Linked DNA regions of Homo sapiens: region 1 is linked to region 2. Evidence: fine-mapped expression QTL. Tissue or cell type: aorta. Region 2 holds a variant in brackets; the other region holds the start of a gene. All regions are shown on one strand. Distances are from middle to middle.

Evidence for each region. PIP is the estimated chance that this variant, and not a neighbour inherited with it, causes the effect.
Region 1: it holds the start of RNF217, and the variant in region 2 is fine-mapped to the expression of RNF217 in aorta (GTEx, PIP above 0.99). The same link has a PIP of 0.9 or more in lung.

The regions. Positions count from the first base shown.
Region 1 is chr6:124,958,435-124,965,179 of GRCh38, reverse strand. It overlaps RNF217 (ring finger protein 217), which reads right to left and starts at 2,743. Exons shown (of 6, transcript NM_001286398.3): 1 at 1,754-2,743. The coding sequence starts at 2,635. RNF217-AS1 (RNF217 antisense RNA 1) reads left to right here and starts at 2,153. Exons shown (of 7, transcript NR_026876.1): 1 at 2,153-2,357.
Region 2 is chr6:125,098,534-125,107,097 of GRCh38, reverse strand. No RefSeq gene overlaps it. Among named protein-coding and RNA genes, the nearest start is that of TPD52L1, 51 kb to the left of the region's middle. RefSeq lists a silencer at 1,459-1,692. The variant G/A (reference allele first, on the strand shown) is at 4,112.

The DNA.
Region 1 (6,745 bases), 140 kb after region 2:
AGAGGAGTTTTTAGTGGTTGTACTGTACACTGCAATGACCACTTGACTATGTCCCTCTGTCTCCCTACTACCATTACTAAAACTTCCTAAAACTAACTTATGAGGTTTAATAAAGAAAAAGAAAACTGCTTTGGGGAAAGGGCCCACCATAAGGAAATCAAACTGCTAGGTAAAGTACCCCAAGCCACAATGACTACCTCCCTTGAATTTCTGGAATGTGTATCCAGCATTTAACAGGAAGTGCTATCTGGAATTGTTACTCTATTGACATCTCATCCCATGCTACCTTGTATTGTTCTTTTGTACACATCTGCTCTCACAGTGACTTCCCTGGAGGCGGGCTTATATTTTGGAAATGTCTGAATCCCATCGCAGGGCAGCGAAATCTGTTTTGAGGATGATGATACAGAAACTACCACAACCAGCAGCAGACATTCCTCCTGTTTTAAGAATCTCTGTAGATAAAGCATGAAAGAAACAACAGTCTCTCAGAGGCTTTTAAATAATCCCAACTATTTTAGCCAACTTACTGTTTATGTAACATACCGTTTTAAGTCTTTGTTTGCATTTTTAGTTAGGGACTGTACACACTTTCAGTCTAGACCCAAGCATGAGTTAGCCAAAAAACATAGAGGAATCACATGGTACGGAGCCCTGTTCAGTTTGTCCCAGCCAATGTTATTAAAAACACTATGATGGGCAAGGGACTCAACATGAAGCTACCACATATGGGACTCTAAGACATTGTCCAGACAGTCTAACAAGACAAGCAGACACGAAAGAAACAACTTCAGTGCATGTAAGATAATATAAGATACTGTGAAAGTATATAAGCAGTGACTTGGAGGGTGAGGCAACGCTTCACAGAAGAGTTGGCACCTGAACACACAGGGTTTTGAAAGATGAATAGGCCTAGGACAATTGGACACAGGATCAAAGGGCATCCAGGATTGTGCAAAACACTGGCAGAAACATCACAGATTGAAAACTGCTGGAAGAACGCATTCACCGTCAGTGAAGGAAAGCTGGTCTGGTGCACTCTCAAGCTTTCCAAGAAAAAAAACCAAGTTTTCAAATAAAAGCAGAGGAGGAAAGTTTCACCAGTGCTTGTTCTGAGAAACCTCTTAGCCTCTCTTTGCTTTGTTTTGCTCTTTCTGTTTTGCTTCCCTCTTAAAGAGTGCTGGCTTAAAACCTCAGTGAAAGAAAAGTACTTCAACTTTACTGTGGAAAAAGGAAACTGAAAAGTAGGCAAAGGCCAAGGGATACATTTTTTTAAACATTCACTCTTTCCTGGAATATACAAATGAAGCAAAATTACAAATTCATGTATTATGGGTCTGAAATATTTATTCCAATTCTTTTCTCCACCAGCTCCATAAATATTTATTCTATGCCCACTGCTTGTTAGTTTCTGGGATACCAGGCCGATGAGGCAGTCTCTTCCTCTCCTCCTTTGAGCAAGCTTGTGCTTGCAATCCTGTATAAGAAATAAGAGGAGGGCAACAACTTGTATCTTGTGCCTTCTACACATGCCAACCATAGCCTGAAGTTCACAGCAAAGTTAAATTCCAGTTAAGTAAACCAGTGAGGTCATAATACACTTAAATAACAACTGAGACGTGAGAAACTAACAGAGATCCTCAGTAAGTGTGTCGGTCACCTCTTCGCGCGAGCAGGGAGATCAGATCGAGAGCAGGACCTCCTCGCCAGTGATTTGGAATGATAAATGGGGAAGAGAAGGGGGTGAAGTTACCTGGGCGCTCAGGTAGACTTTGAGGCACTCCTCGCACACGGCCTTCTTGCAGCAAGGCAGGGGCTTGATGGGCTTGTCTTCCAGGCACACCCGGCACATCAGCACCATGAGGGGCACATAGGGATCCCCTACACCGCCCAGGCCAGAGTAGGGTGGAGCTCCCAACAGGCTGGGCATGGAGAACGGCTCGGGCGCCAGGTAGAACTCCAGCTCGATGCTGCCGCCGTCGGGGGAGAGGGAATCCGTTGGGAGGGACAGTCGGGGGCTGGGGAAGGAAGAGCGGGTGCTGGGAGGGTTCAACACTGGCGGAGCCCCAGGTGGCGACGCGGGCGGCGAGAGCTGCTCCGAGGCGGGGGCCTCGGGCAGGTCGCTCTCCACGCAGTACACGGAGCAGAAGACTTGTCTCTTGGCGAGGGACGGGCGCCGCTGACCCAGCACGTCCAGGACCAGTCCGTCGGCGGCCCCCACGCGGGTCCTGGGCTCCAGCTCTTCGCCGGGGGGCGCCTCCTGCTGTTCATCCCCTCCCTCTTTTCGATCCCCAGCTTCCTCCTCTTCCTCCTCCAGCTCCAACTGCAGTGGCAAGGTCTGGGGATTGAGAGGCCCGGTGAGTGCCAGTCCCGCAGGCTGCGCCGGTGCTCGGCTCTTACTCCAGCCCGGGGGCCCCAGGCTCCTCGCGGGCTCTGGGGCGCTGGTGTCCGCGCAGCCCCAGTCGCTTCCGCAGCCACCGCCGCTCGGCTCCGCGGAGGCGGCGCGCAGCGGGGGCGCCCGGGCGCTGTCCCCCTGAGGCCTCGGGGGCTCAGGGTGGCCCGCAGTGCCACTGGCCAGGGTCTGCGACTCCTGGGGCCCGCCGCCGCCGCTCACCGTGCTCTGCTCCTCGCCCATCGCCGCCCGCGGCCCGCGCCGCCGCTGCCCATCCAGCCGCCGGGACCCCCACCCGGCGCCCGCGGGCAGCGGGGGCAGTGGCTCGGCTCGACTCGCGGCTCCGCTTCTGCTTCCGGGTCCTTCCTCCTGGGCTGGGACGCCCCAAGTCCCCTCCGGGGAGCCCGTGCTCCGAGGCTGCGGCGCGTGGGGAGCCTGGCCCGGCCCGCCGCTCCTCCTCGTACTCTGGCGCGGCGGGGCACCGCCTCGGGGGCGCCGAGGGCCGCTCGCTCTGGGCTCGGGCGCGCCCGCCCCACATGCAGCTCGGGGCGGCGCCGCAGCCCCAGCGAGCCCCAGGCGGGACAGAGGGGTCTGGGAGGAGACGGCCGTCAGTCCCGCGCCATCACCGGTCCCGGCTGCCGGACGCGCGGCCCGAGGGCGGTGGTCAAAGGGTCGAGGGGCCTGTGGCGCCGCCGCGGCGCGCACCAGGAGGTGCAGCCGGAGCGCTGGCCAGCCGCAGGGCCCCTGGGGGAGAGGCCGGAGCGGGCGACCTCCCTCTCCCCGCGCTTCACCTACAGCCCTCCTCGCCGCCCCTCACCCCACCCCTTTGGCGCACACCTCCCCACACGTACACACGCGCGCAGGCACCCGCGCACACACACACGCACACCCTGAGTGGGTGTGATCTAAGAGCTGAGATGCGCTTTCTCGCCCGGAGTTCACACTCAGCCTCAACAAAACCCTCAGAGCAGGCAGGCTCCCCTTTGGTCTCCGCATTCAGTAGAACTTCCTACAAAACTACACTCAGCTCTGGAATTAGTAAACGCTGGCTATTTAGGATGTCGAGTTCAGAGAAATAATGCTAAGGATTATGAATTCTAAATGCTGTATATTACAACTCTGTTTTTCTGCCTAGTGGAGTAGGAAGAATCTTCGAAACCCATAAATAATCGAAAAAGCACTTTCGATCTACTCCTCCAACTGGAATCCTTAGAAGAGTTGATAACTAATTTAAAATTTCTCTCTTTTTCTTCGCCTACAGTGTTCTCTTAGAAGTTTTTTTTTTTAACCCTTTTCAGCATTCCAAAATGGATAGCACAAGGTGGAAAAATGTCCTGACCTAATTAATAAACTGGATCATTAGTGGAAATCATGGGCAGTTTCATTAGCATAACCATATTTATCCTCAAAACTGTTTCCAAAACAACAATTATATGTGAGCCAGGACTTAATTATGTGTTGATCTATCTTTATTTTACAGGAAGTATTACTCACCCAGACACTGGTGTTTTAGTTCCCTAAAGCCAGTGAAAACATTTTTGGGAAGCCAGCCCTTGTTTTGTTTTTTTTCTCCTGAGAGGGAATTCAATTTACACATTCATGTAATAGCAAGGAACTGTAAAGTGTGTAGAATTTTATTTTTTAATCTCGAAGTTGTTATTGGGTTGTTCTAAAATATTTTCCAAATCAGATGCAAATGATACAAAGGTGACTAGCGATGCAAACTAAGAAAGCAGTGTAATGCCAAAGAACATTTCCATCATATATGTGTGTCTGAGGCTCAGTTGCAAGCAAAGGTATGAATTGGATGTCTAAATGCCATGTCATCTATCGGTCTGACCCAAGAATGGAAAATTCTTATTTTGAAGATTAAATGCTATTCGAGGATTCTTTTCTTTTTTATCTCAGCTAAGTGATTTCCTGGTAACTGCTGTTTTCTCCAAATGATACTTTAAGTGCTTATTGTTTTAAAGACAGAGACAAGAAACCTACTTATGTGTGCCTTTTGAGTGTGCCATCTGATGACCAAGCCACTATTCTTTCCAGAGATATAAAAGTAATCTGCATTTTCCAGGTGACAACAGGCTAAGACCAGAGTAACAATAATGGATGCCAAAAAGTATATTCCCACAGCGTCTATTGGAATAAAACCCCTCAAAGTCCTCTTATAGTTTTGGGAACCCCTCCTCACACACATTTTTCACTCGTATTCTGAGAACTTGTTCTTCCAGTGTTTACCATTTTATTCCTTATCCCTTAGGTTCCAGCTTACTGGAAGTGGCTGTCCTCTACACCAAACCCATTAGAAGTCCCTGCTGGGACTCATGATGGCCGCCCATATCTCTGCTGCTTAAAACTGCAGCCCTTTATTTTGCCATGACTTCTTCCCTACAGAATTCATTGGGCCTTTGTGAAAATAGAATAATATGTGGTTCCCTATTTCCACCCTCCAAATTGGCCCAAACTTGCCTGAATCCTTGACCCACCACCCCTGGCATTCAATCTAGTGCTCATGGGACTCCAGCAGCATGGAAGTGAATTAAATTGAAAAGTTAACATCGTGGTTCCACAATGAATTTTCTCTGAAGTGCATGAAGCACCAGTAATGATTGTTTCGATGGGATTAATTATTTAAAGAAGGATTGGTTGAAAATATTTTATTAACCAATATTTAATATTTTAGCAAAAATTCCATTTATCTGCCACAAGCTTAATATTCTCAAAACTCAAACCATCTGCTCCATCTCAGGTTGTACACAACTGTTGATACAACGTAAGTACTATCACTAATATCCTGCTCCTACCAACATAAAGCCTCAAAATGTCCTAATCTGCAGTGAACTGTGTACCTTCCCTAAAATCCAGACTTCAATATCAGAAAACTATGTCAGTTTTAGAATGCTGTTTTTTCTATTATTGCCTTTCTTATCCTGGCATTAAAACATGACTTCTTTTTGGCTCCCTTCAATTTTTTTAAATCATTTTTATTAATGCATAATATTTGAACATATTTGTGGGATATATGTGATATTTTGATATATGCATACCATGTGTGATGATCAAATAAAGGTACACAGGATATTCATCACCTTGAACAGTTATCATTTCTTTGTGTTGGAAACATTTCAAATATTCTCTTCTAGCTGTTTTAAAATATACAATATATAGCTATAGTCAGCCTACTGTGCTATTGAACACTAGAACTTAGTCCTTCTATCTAAGTATATGTTTGTATACATATAACCAACTTCTCTTCATCTGCCCCTGTGTTTCCAGCCTCTGGGAACTATCATTCTCCTTTCTACTTCCATGAGATCAACTTTTTAAACTCCCATATATCAAGAACATGTGATATTTGTCTTTCTGTGCCTGCCTTATTTCACTTAACATAATGATCTCTAGTGCCATCCATGTTGCTGTAAATGACAAAATTTCATTTTTTATGGCTAAATAGTATTTTATTGAATATACATACCATATTTTCTTTATCCATTCATCTGTTGATAGACACTTAGGTTGATTCCATATCAACCTCTTGTAAATAGTGCTATAATAAATATAGGGGTGCAGATGTCACTTTGATTTACTGATTTCCTTTCCTGCTACTGGATAAATACCCAGTAATGAGATTGCTGGATCATATGGTAGTTATATTTTTAGTTTTTTGAGAAACTTCCAGACTATTTTCTATAATGACTATACATATTTATGTTCCCATCAAGAGTGTATAAAATTTCCCTCTTCTATGCATCCTGGCCACCTTTTGTTATTTTTTGTCTTTTTGATAATAGTCATTCTAACTGTGGTAAGATGATGTCTCATTGTGGTTTTGATCTGCATTTCTCTGGTGATTGATGATGCTGGGCATTTTTTAAATAAACTTGTTAGCCATTTGTATGACTTCTTTTGAGAAAGAAAGTCTATATAAAAGAAAGTCTTTTGAGTTGATTTTTGTGATCAACTGTGTGAGTGATAGGTGTCTAGTTTCATTCTTATGCATAGGGATTTCCAGTTTTCTCGGCATCATTTATTGAAGAGAATGTCTTTTCCCCAATGTTTATTCTTGGCACCTTTGTTGGAAATTAGTTGGCCATAAATATGTGGACTTAATAATATTTCTGGATTCTCTATTTTGTTTCATTGGTCTATGAGTCTGTCTGTTTTTATACAGACTTTCTTTTATACAGACAAGAAATGTCTGTTAATGTCCTTTGCCCAATTTTTAGTGCAATTATTATATATATTATACTGTTGAGTTTTTTGAGTTCCTTGTATATTCTGGGTATTAGTCCCTTGTGGGATGAATAGTTTGCAAATATTTCCTCCCATTCTGCAGTTTGTGTCTTTGCTCTC
Region 2 (8,564 bases):
TAAGAACTGTAATATGACTATTACATAAGCTAGCTTCCATTTTTCCTCCCTACTTAATCTATGGATTGGCAGGTGGTGGCATTAACATTGTGCTCATATTTTACATCTGTTTCTTCACAGAAGGGCTCCTAAGGATAGTTTCACTTTTGGAACCAGGAAATTATTTTTTAAATTTAATCTACTTTTATCATTTATTTTACCAAAATACAATTTTAAAATAAAACATACCTTTAATATGTATGTCTATATATGGGTACAGGCATGTACATATATGTACATATACATATAGATACATACACTCACACCACCCATTGTACTGGGAGAGCAGCTTACTCTGATACCCTTACTCTACCCAAAACAAGATAAAACCTCAAAAAAACAAAACCATCTGGGCCAGATGCAGGGGCTCATGCCTGTAATCCCAGCAGTTTGGGAGGCTGAGGCAGGTAGATTGTTTGAGGCCAGGAGTTCAAGACCAGCCTAGGCAACATGGCAAAACACCATCTATACTAAAAATACAAAAATTAGCCTGGTGTGGTGGTGCACACCTGTGGTCCCAGCCACTCTGGTGGCTGAGCTATAAGAATCGCTTGAACCCAGGAGGCGGAGGTTGCAGTGAGCCATGATCACAGCACTGCACTCCAGCCTGGGTGACAGAGAGAGACTCTGTCTCAAAACTAACAAACAAACAACAACAACAAAAGGCAACCCTCTGGTTTGCACAGTTGGCCAGTTTTAGAAGTGTACTCTCATCTTTGCCAATTTCAAACTGCCAACTTGATGTTACTGAACATAGTCTAGAAGAGACTCTCATAGTCGACTCTCACAAACCGACAGAAGCAAGCTCTAGAACATACACATACACACGACTTATGTCTGGGGTGTGTGTGCACGCGTGTGTGTGTGTATGTGTGTGTGTATATGTGTGTATGTGTGTGTGTGTATTGGAGGCTAATGTAATTATTTTGCCTAAAATGTCTACAAAATTGTCTTATGGTCCAGGCATAGTGGCTTACACCTGTAATTCCAGCACTTTGGGAGGCTGGAGCTGGAGAATCACTGGAGACCACGAGTTTGAGACCACTCTGAGCAACATAGCAAGACTCTGTCTTTACAAAACCTAAAAAAATTAGTTGGGGTTGGTGGTGCATGCCTATAGTCTCAGCTACGTGAGAGGCTGAGGAGAGAGGATTACTTGGGTCCAGGAATTCAAGGCTGCAGTGAGCTATGATTGCATCACTGGACTCCAGTCTGGGCTACAGGGGGAGACCCTGTCTCAAAAAAAAAAAAAAAAAAAGCCATATTTACCTTTATTGTTATACTTATCCCAACCACCCTGTATTGATACCTCCTAGTTCCATCCTTTTACTTCAGCCATATAGAGGCAATCAGTTGCTAGCAAGTGTAATCAGTCAACACCTTTCCTCAGATTTCTGGTTACCTTATGGTTACCTATAGCTTTAAACACATTTGTTCAGCCTTAAAGAAATTTTTGGGTTGAAGATTTGGAGTCTTTTTTTTTTTTTTGGTTTAAGAATAACAGCACCAGCCGGGCGCGGTGGCTCACGCCTGTAATCCCAGCACTTTGGGAGGCTGAGGCAGGCAGATCACCTGAGGTTGGTAGTTCAAGACCAGCCTGACCAAAATGGAAAAACCCTGTCTCTACTAAAAATACAAAATTAGCTGGGCATGGTGGCACATGCCTGTAATCCCAGCTACTTGGGAGGCTGAGGCAGGAGAATCGCTTGAAACTGGGAGGCAGAGGTTGCAGTGAGGGGAGATCGTGCCATTGCACTCCAGCCCGGGCAACAAGAGTGAAATTCCATCTCAAAAAAAAAAAAGAATAACAGCACCAAGTTAAGTTGGACTGTTCATCTGGGATAGGTTTCAGATGAACATTTGATTGCCTTTACTACTTCTCACTTCTGTTCCTGGACATATGCCTAATAATTAGATTATTGCTATTTTCCAGGTCTTTGTATTTTATCTGTGGGGAATATAAGCAGTAAGAAAAATGTTCATCAGGGCTCTTAGCAAAGATCAAAGAGGTATTTGAAAGTGTTTTCTAATAATCTGGTAATTGTTTAACAACATGTGAAGTGTTCCAATAGAAACTTCTTATTGCCTCCAGTGGACTTAAAAAAATCAGATTCTGCTTTCTTTTTATTTTCATAGTTACTATTAGTCTAATACTGAGTTAAGTTTGAATGCAAAGTAATAGAATATGAGAACAATTGGATCAACCAATCCTCTTTAAAATGCTTTTCATTTAACAAAATGCCATCAGCATTTAGCCACACAGCAGATTTAATACCCAGTCACTGTGAAGCAACTCAGAGAATAATGGAATGATTTGGAGTGCCGCTGGTGGTTACAGGAAATTTTACAGTGATGTGTTTGGTGTTTAGCTCACAGATTTCTTCCTCAGAAGACTGAATGGTTCTAGCAATGAGCTAGCAACATGACTCCACAAGTTCTTTGAGAAGCCTTTATTCGTGTTGCACAGGATTTCGGCTTCTGGCCTCCTGGAGTTAATTGCAGCCACCAGTCTTTCCTGCAGAGCCAGCTGCTTTTTATGGTCAGAGGAGATAAACAGAGGCTCAATAGGAGATCTATTTCTAGGCATTGAAAGGGCCTCTGTGCCGCTGGTTGAGGGGAAAATCATCCAATCTCCCTCATGAAATGCCTGGACCATTTCTTGGGGCTGTCCTCCTTAAACTGGCACTTCCTGTACCCAGTTTAAATAGTAGATAGGCTAAAAAATATAAGCCTTAAAAAGTCTTAAGGTATGAAATCATGTCTAACTGAGCAAAACAACATTCAAAGTTGGCAAGCTAATATGTGTTCATTCAATGTTGAATTAATGGCCAGTATGGGAAGCATATTAATTGGGGGCGGGGGGGAAAAAAATCACAATTATAACCCAGCAGTTGTCAATAACATTTTCTGGGTTAAGAGTGATTTGCTTGAGGGAAGGGGGAAGGGAGTTTCCATTCATTGAATACTACTTTGGGCTTCCTACACGAACGGTATCCAAAGTACACTTATTCCCATTTTATAGTTGTTAAAGCAAAATTTAACTTTATAAAATTGTAAAAGAGGATTATAATTGCTGTAGTTTGATTTTATTGCATATTATTGGTTATATAATATGGTATAAGTATATGAGAGAGCTGGTTCCCCTCATAGTCAAGGGAAGGAAATTTGGCTCCAGGGTTGAGCACCTGGTCCGAGGCTGCAGCACCCAGGAGGAGGCACAGAAACCAGGTTTTTCGACTCCTGAATCAATGCTCATTTCACTACCCAGACCACCTTATTTATATGATGGAAGTTTCTTGATTAGGAAGCAAGTCAATAACAAAACCCCTAGTTTCAGTTGTAGCATTAAGAATAAATATCTTCTTTCACAATGATTTTTATTTCTGAAAAGAAATAGCCTTCTGTCAAGAAACAATGCACTTTTAAGATATTTTTCACTATTACCAATTGATTACATAAAAATGCATACTGTAGAAGGAGATAGAACGATTTGATTCCAGCTCTAGGAAATAAATGTGCTGCTCAAATGATTTTCTAATAAGATAGCATCTGCTTATATTGCTATTTAAAAACTATTTAGGTCCATTTAAATTAGTTAGAATCACCTTCACAAATAGGAGTGTGCCTTTAAATTCAATGCATTACATATGGAAATAGGTTCTCTAAGGTTTACAGACTTTTGAATTTTAGTGTAAGATGTTGTCGCCTTTGTTCTGTAATAAAAACACACACATTTTCTAGAAGGAAAACTCTGCCTGTATCAAATTGGTTGTATGTCCCCTGCATCCTAAAACCAGATTATTCCGAGGAACAGTGGATGTGGAGTGGGTTTTCTACCATGGAAGGCTGGGGTGCTCCCTGGACTGTGCTGTGGCCTGTCCTAGGGCCCCTGCTATTGTTGGGTTGGCTGTCCCAATCCTCCAGGGAAGTCCATATAGGGAAGAAGGGAATGTGTTCTTTCATTCCTTCAAAAATATTTGTTGAGTCATTGATTACTATGTGTTAGACACTGTTCTAGTTACGGAAGCAGCACATACCAGACATTTTAAAGTCCCAACAACCCTTTCCCATA[G/A]GTCTATTATAATTTTATAGATGAAGAATCTGACATACAAAGAGATTAAGTAACTTGCCCCAGGTCCCTGAGCTAAAAGGTAGTAAAAACTGGAGCCTAAATTTGTATGGGCCCAATGTCTATGTTCTTTCTATCATGTCTAGTGTACATGTGTATATATATATATGTGTGTATATATATATACACACACATACACACACACATATATGTACACACACACTTATATATATCACATTTAGGACATACTTATACTAAAAATTACTGCTTGTCTATCTGAAATTAAAATTTAACTGAGTGTATTATATTTAATTGGGCAACCCCTTGGAAGTGTTTTTCAGGGCCAGCAATGAGGCAACAGGATATTATCACGTTTCCCTTATTTCTTTCCTTTGCATGTTTCAAAGTAAATTGCATACACACAGAAATTCAAAGACGCTTTAAGAAATCTTTTGCTCAAGAAGAACAGTATTTTGTTTTGAAGGATGTAATTGAAACGAGGAAACTAGGAAAGCATGCAGCTTTCCTTCCTTTTTTTTCCCTTTTCCTTCCTCTCTCTTTTCTGTTATTACTCTCTTTCTTTTCTTTTACTTTTTACTTCCTTTCTTCCTTCTCCCTTTGTAGAGCACATATTAAGGGCCAGGACTTGTGCCCTGTTGGGGATAATTGTCCCTGCCTTGAAGGAACACAAAGACCTGAAGGAAACTGTGAAAAGTGCTGTAATAGGTTGAATGGTGTCTTCCCAAAAGTTAATGTCCTCTTGGAACCTCAGAATGTGACTTTATTTGAAATAGGGTGTTTGTGGATGTAATTGTAGTATTTAAGTGAAGGTCTGTATTCCTTTGTTAGGGCTGTCATAACAAGGTACCACAGACCTGGAGTGGGAGGGACTTAAACAATAGAAAGTTATTTTCTCACAGTTCTGGAGGCTAGAAGTCTAAGATCAAGGTGTAAACAGGGTTGATTTCCTCTGAGGCCTCTCTCCTTGGCTTGCAGTTGGCCATCTTTTCTTTATGTCTTCAGCATGAACTTTCCTCTGTGTATGCCTGTGTCCCAATCTCCTCTTATGAGGATGCCAGTCATATTGGGTTAGGGCCCACCCGTATGACCTCATTCTACCTTACTTAGTTCCCTGTGTCAAGATTCTATCTCCAAATACAGTCACAGCCTGAGGCTGTGGGGATTAGGACTTCAACATATGAATTTAGAGAGAACACATTTCTGCCCCAAAGATGACACTGGATAAGGTTGGGTCCTATATCCAATGACTGAAGTGAAGTGAAGATACAGCAAGTCAAAGAATGCCAAGGATTGCTGGCAACCACCAGAAGCGAGGAGAGAGACAAAAAACAGATTCTCCTTCAGAGCCTCCAGAAGGAAACAGTGCTGCTGACACTTTGATTTCAGACTTCAGGCCTCTCTATGAGAGAATTAAGTTTGTTGTTGTAACCCACCCAGTTTGTGGTATTTTGCTACTTCTACCCTAGAAAACTAATACAAGTGCCTTGCTCAGTGGTGATTTACAAAGAGTCCTTAACAGAGGGGGCCATGGTGATGCACCCTGGATGGTACAGGCAGGATGGCATCTAGCAGGAGAAAATGCTGGGGCTGAGGACGATGGAGAAGTAGGAGTTAGGAGGAGGAGGAGGAGGAGGAGGAGGAGGAGGAGGAGGAGGTAGAGACCCAGCCTATGGGAGTATGCAGATGCACAGCTGCTTGACAGGGCCTGTCTGGATTACAGAAATAATAGAACTGAACAGTTGGAACTAACTTTAAATATAGGTTACATGGACCCACATTTCATTGCTGAAAGAGATCTTAGAGACTACCCTTGCACTCCTTGATTTTAGACCAAAGTCTGGGAAGGTATGTGGCTATGCCAATATCACAGAGCAAATTAATGTAAGAATTCAAGATAGGAATCCATTTGTCCTAAATCTTTGCCTAGTACTCTCCACAAGACCAGGATTGGAGCCCAGCCTTCACCAAGATCCACATACAGGGTATGTCTAATAACACAGGAGGGGCCCTAAACATGCTTACTACTACTACTACTACTAATAAACTGAATAAGTAATGTTGAATAAACTTTCAATGAATTGAATGTCAGAAAGAAAATAACTGGTATTATGCTATGTACTTTCATATACACTGTCTCATTTGATGGGAACAAAAACTTCTATCTGTTGTGTTATTATTCCCCAATTTCCAATTACTCTTTTAGAGTTGCAGATGTCAAAGGACAGTTTGGGTACCCTGCCTCAGAGTCCCTGGTTAACAAGAGAAGGGCTCTGAGAAGCAGTCTAGCTTGATAGCTCAGGGCTCCCAGGCCCAGGTTTAGATCACACCTCTGTCCTTGCAGACTCTGTGATGGGGGAGGTTATTCAGTCTCTGTCAAGGCTAATAAATAATGCAACAACGGTGATTCTAATAGTTTAAAACGGATCAGGATACCCTGATGTAGTGGGAAAAAACTTGCCCTTGGTATTCAAATCAGATTGATGATGCAACTCTGTCCTGACTTCACTTTCCTCATCTCTGAAATGGGAATAATGTTTATCTCATAGGGTTGTGAGGATTTTCCAGGAAAATCGCACACAACCCCGCACGTTTCTACTTGTTAAAGGAACTCAGCCGAAATTCTTGCCAGCTTTCGTCCCGACCCCATCCCCAGGGCTCCTCCTGGTTCCTGGTGGGCCCTCTTTCCTAGTCTATTTTTTTTAACTTTCTCTTCGTTTTGTCTTTCCTTTCTCTCTCCCTTTCATCTCCTTCTCCCCCCGTTACTTTTCTTTTGGGTTACCTTTTTAATGAGATGTAGAAAATGTATCAGCAGGTTTATGAAAAGTGAACTGGCAGATGGAAGATGTCACCATGACACTGAGGAAAACTGTTTTCTAACCCCCACCAAAGTAATTTAATTTACACATTTACTTCCTCAAAAAAAGAAAAAAAAAAGCTTTTATGCTTTCAGCACGCAGGCAATGGAGACAGCCTCGGGTCGTGTTGCCCACACGCAGGTGCTGCTAGCTGCCTCCCAGTCGCTCTCCTCGCGCATCTTCCCAGGGGACATCCGCCCTCCCGGGACTGTGCTCCGGACAGCGGGGGAGGGCAGAGGGAGGGGCAGGGAGGTGACAAGCAGCGCCCCGCAGTGTGCACCGTGCGCTTCACTCCGCGCTCCTCTCCGTGCACCCAGACCCAGAGCAGCCCCGCCCGGCAGCCAGCACAACTGCCCCGCGCCACAGGCCGCCGGCCTCTGCTTGCCAGGGCTGCGGGGGAAGAACATGCCCCCGTGCACTAGCTCCGCGTTCCCGAAGGAAGGTTTTCGCAGCCATGGGCAGTGGGCCTTTAGTCTCCCGCTCCGTGCAGTGGGAAGGGATCAACTGAGCGGCGCGGAGCCATCAGTGGTCTCTGCGTGGAGGCTGCAGCCCCGCCGACGCCCTCGCCTTCGCCCTCGCCCCCGCCCCCGCCCCCGCCCTCTATACTGTGGACAAAGGCAATCCGGATTTGTTTTTGTTTTCGTGGTTTTCTTTGTTGATGATGGGAGCTGGAAACTGGGGAGGAGAGAATTTTGCAGTTGTGAAAGGGCATCTCTCTCTTCCCTTACTTATTATTTTCTTCAAAGATAACAGAATTTCCCCATGGCAGGAACCGCAGACTGGCAAGCAGGAGACCTGAGTTTGAGTTGAGCCTTTGCTATGTGACCTCAAACAAACCATTGAACTGTATTTTTTATTTTTTATTTTTTAGTTTAGCTGGGCTTAGCTTTGTTGTTTTCTTTCCCACATTGTTTATAAAACGAGGATACTAATAACACCACAGAGGGGTTGTAAGGATTACATACACGTGAACAGACTATGTGAACGCATAGTAGGCGCTAGATAAAGATTTGTTTTGAAATTATCCATAACAACACCTCCAATATAAGGAATAAGAGACCTAGGAAGCCCAGAGAGGGCAAGTTAGCATGCCAGTTGGAGGATGAAAACCAAGGCTGGAACTAAGGTTTCCCATTTCCAGCTTCGTGTTCTTCCCATTTCCCACTCTTCCGCTGATTCTAACCTAGTGCACTTACAACTCTGGAGAAGGGAGACCCAGTTGGAATCCCTGGCTTCACCATTCTGAAGTTGAGGCGTCTTGGGCACGTCTCTTATAAAACTTTTTTGTTTTATAGTTTTGTAATTTGTTCCTCAAACGTTTCAATGCCTATGATGTACCTGCCAGTTACCATAGACGGTGGAGGGGACCCAAAAATGAATAGAACATGATCCGTGACCTCATGGAATTCACGTTCTTGCTAGAGGGCCTCATGCATAATATAAGCAAAAATAAATAACCAATCTGTTGGTGATTATATTAATAGAGCATGGTGGAAGGAAGAGTTCTGTTTAATGTCGGGGGTTGGGGGGGATCCCAATGTCTCAACAGTGAGCAAGGACTGGAGAGGTTAACTTGGAAC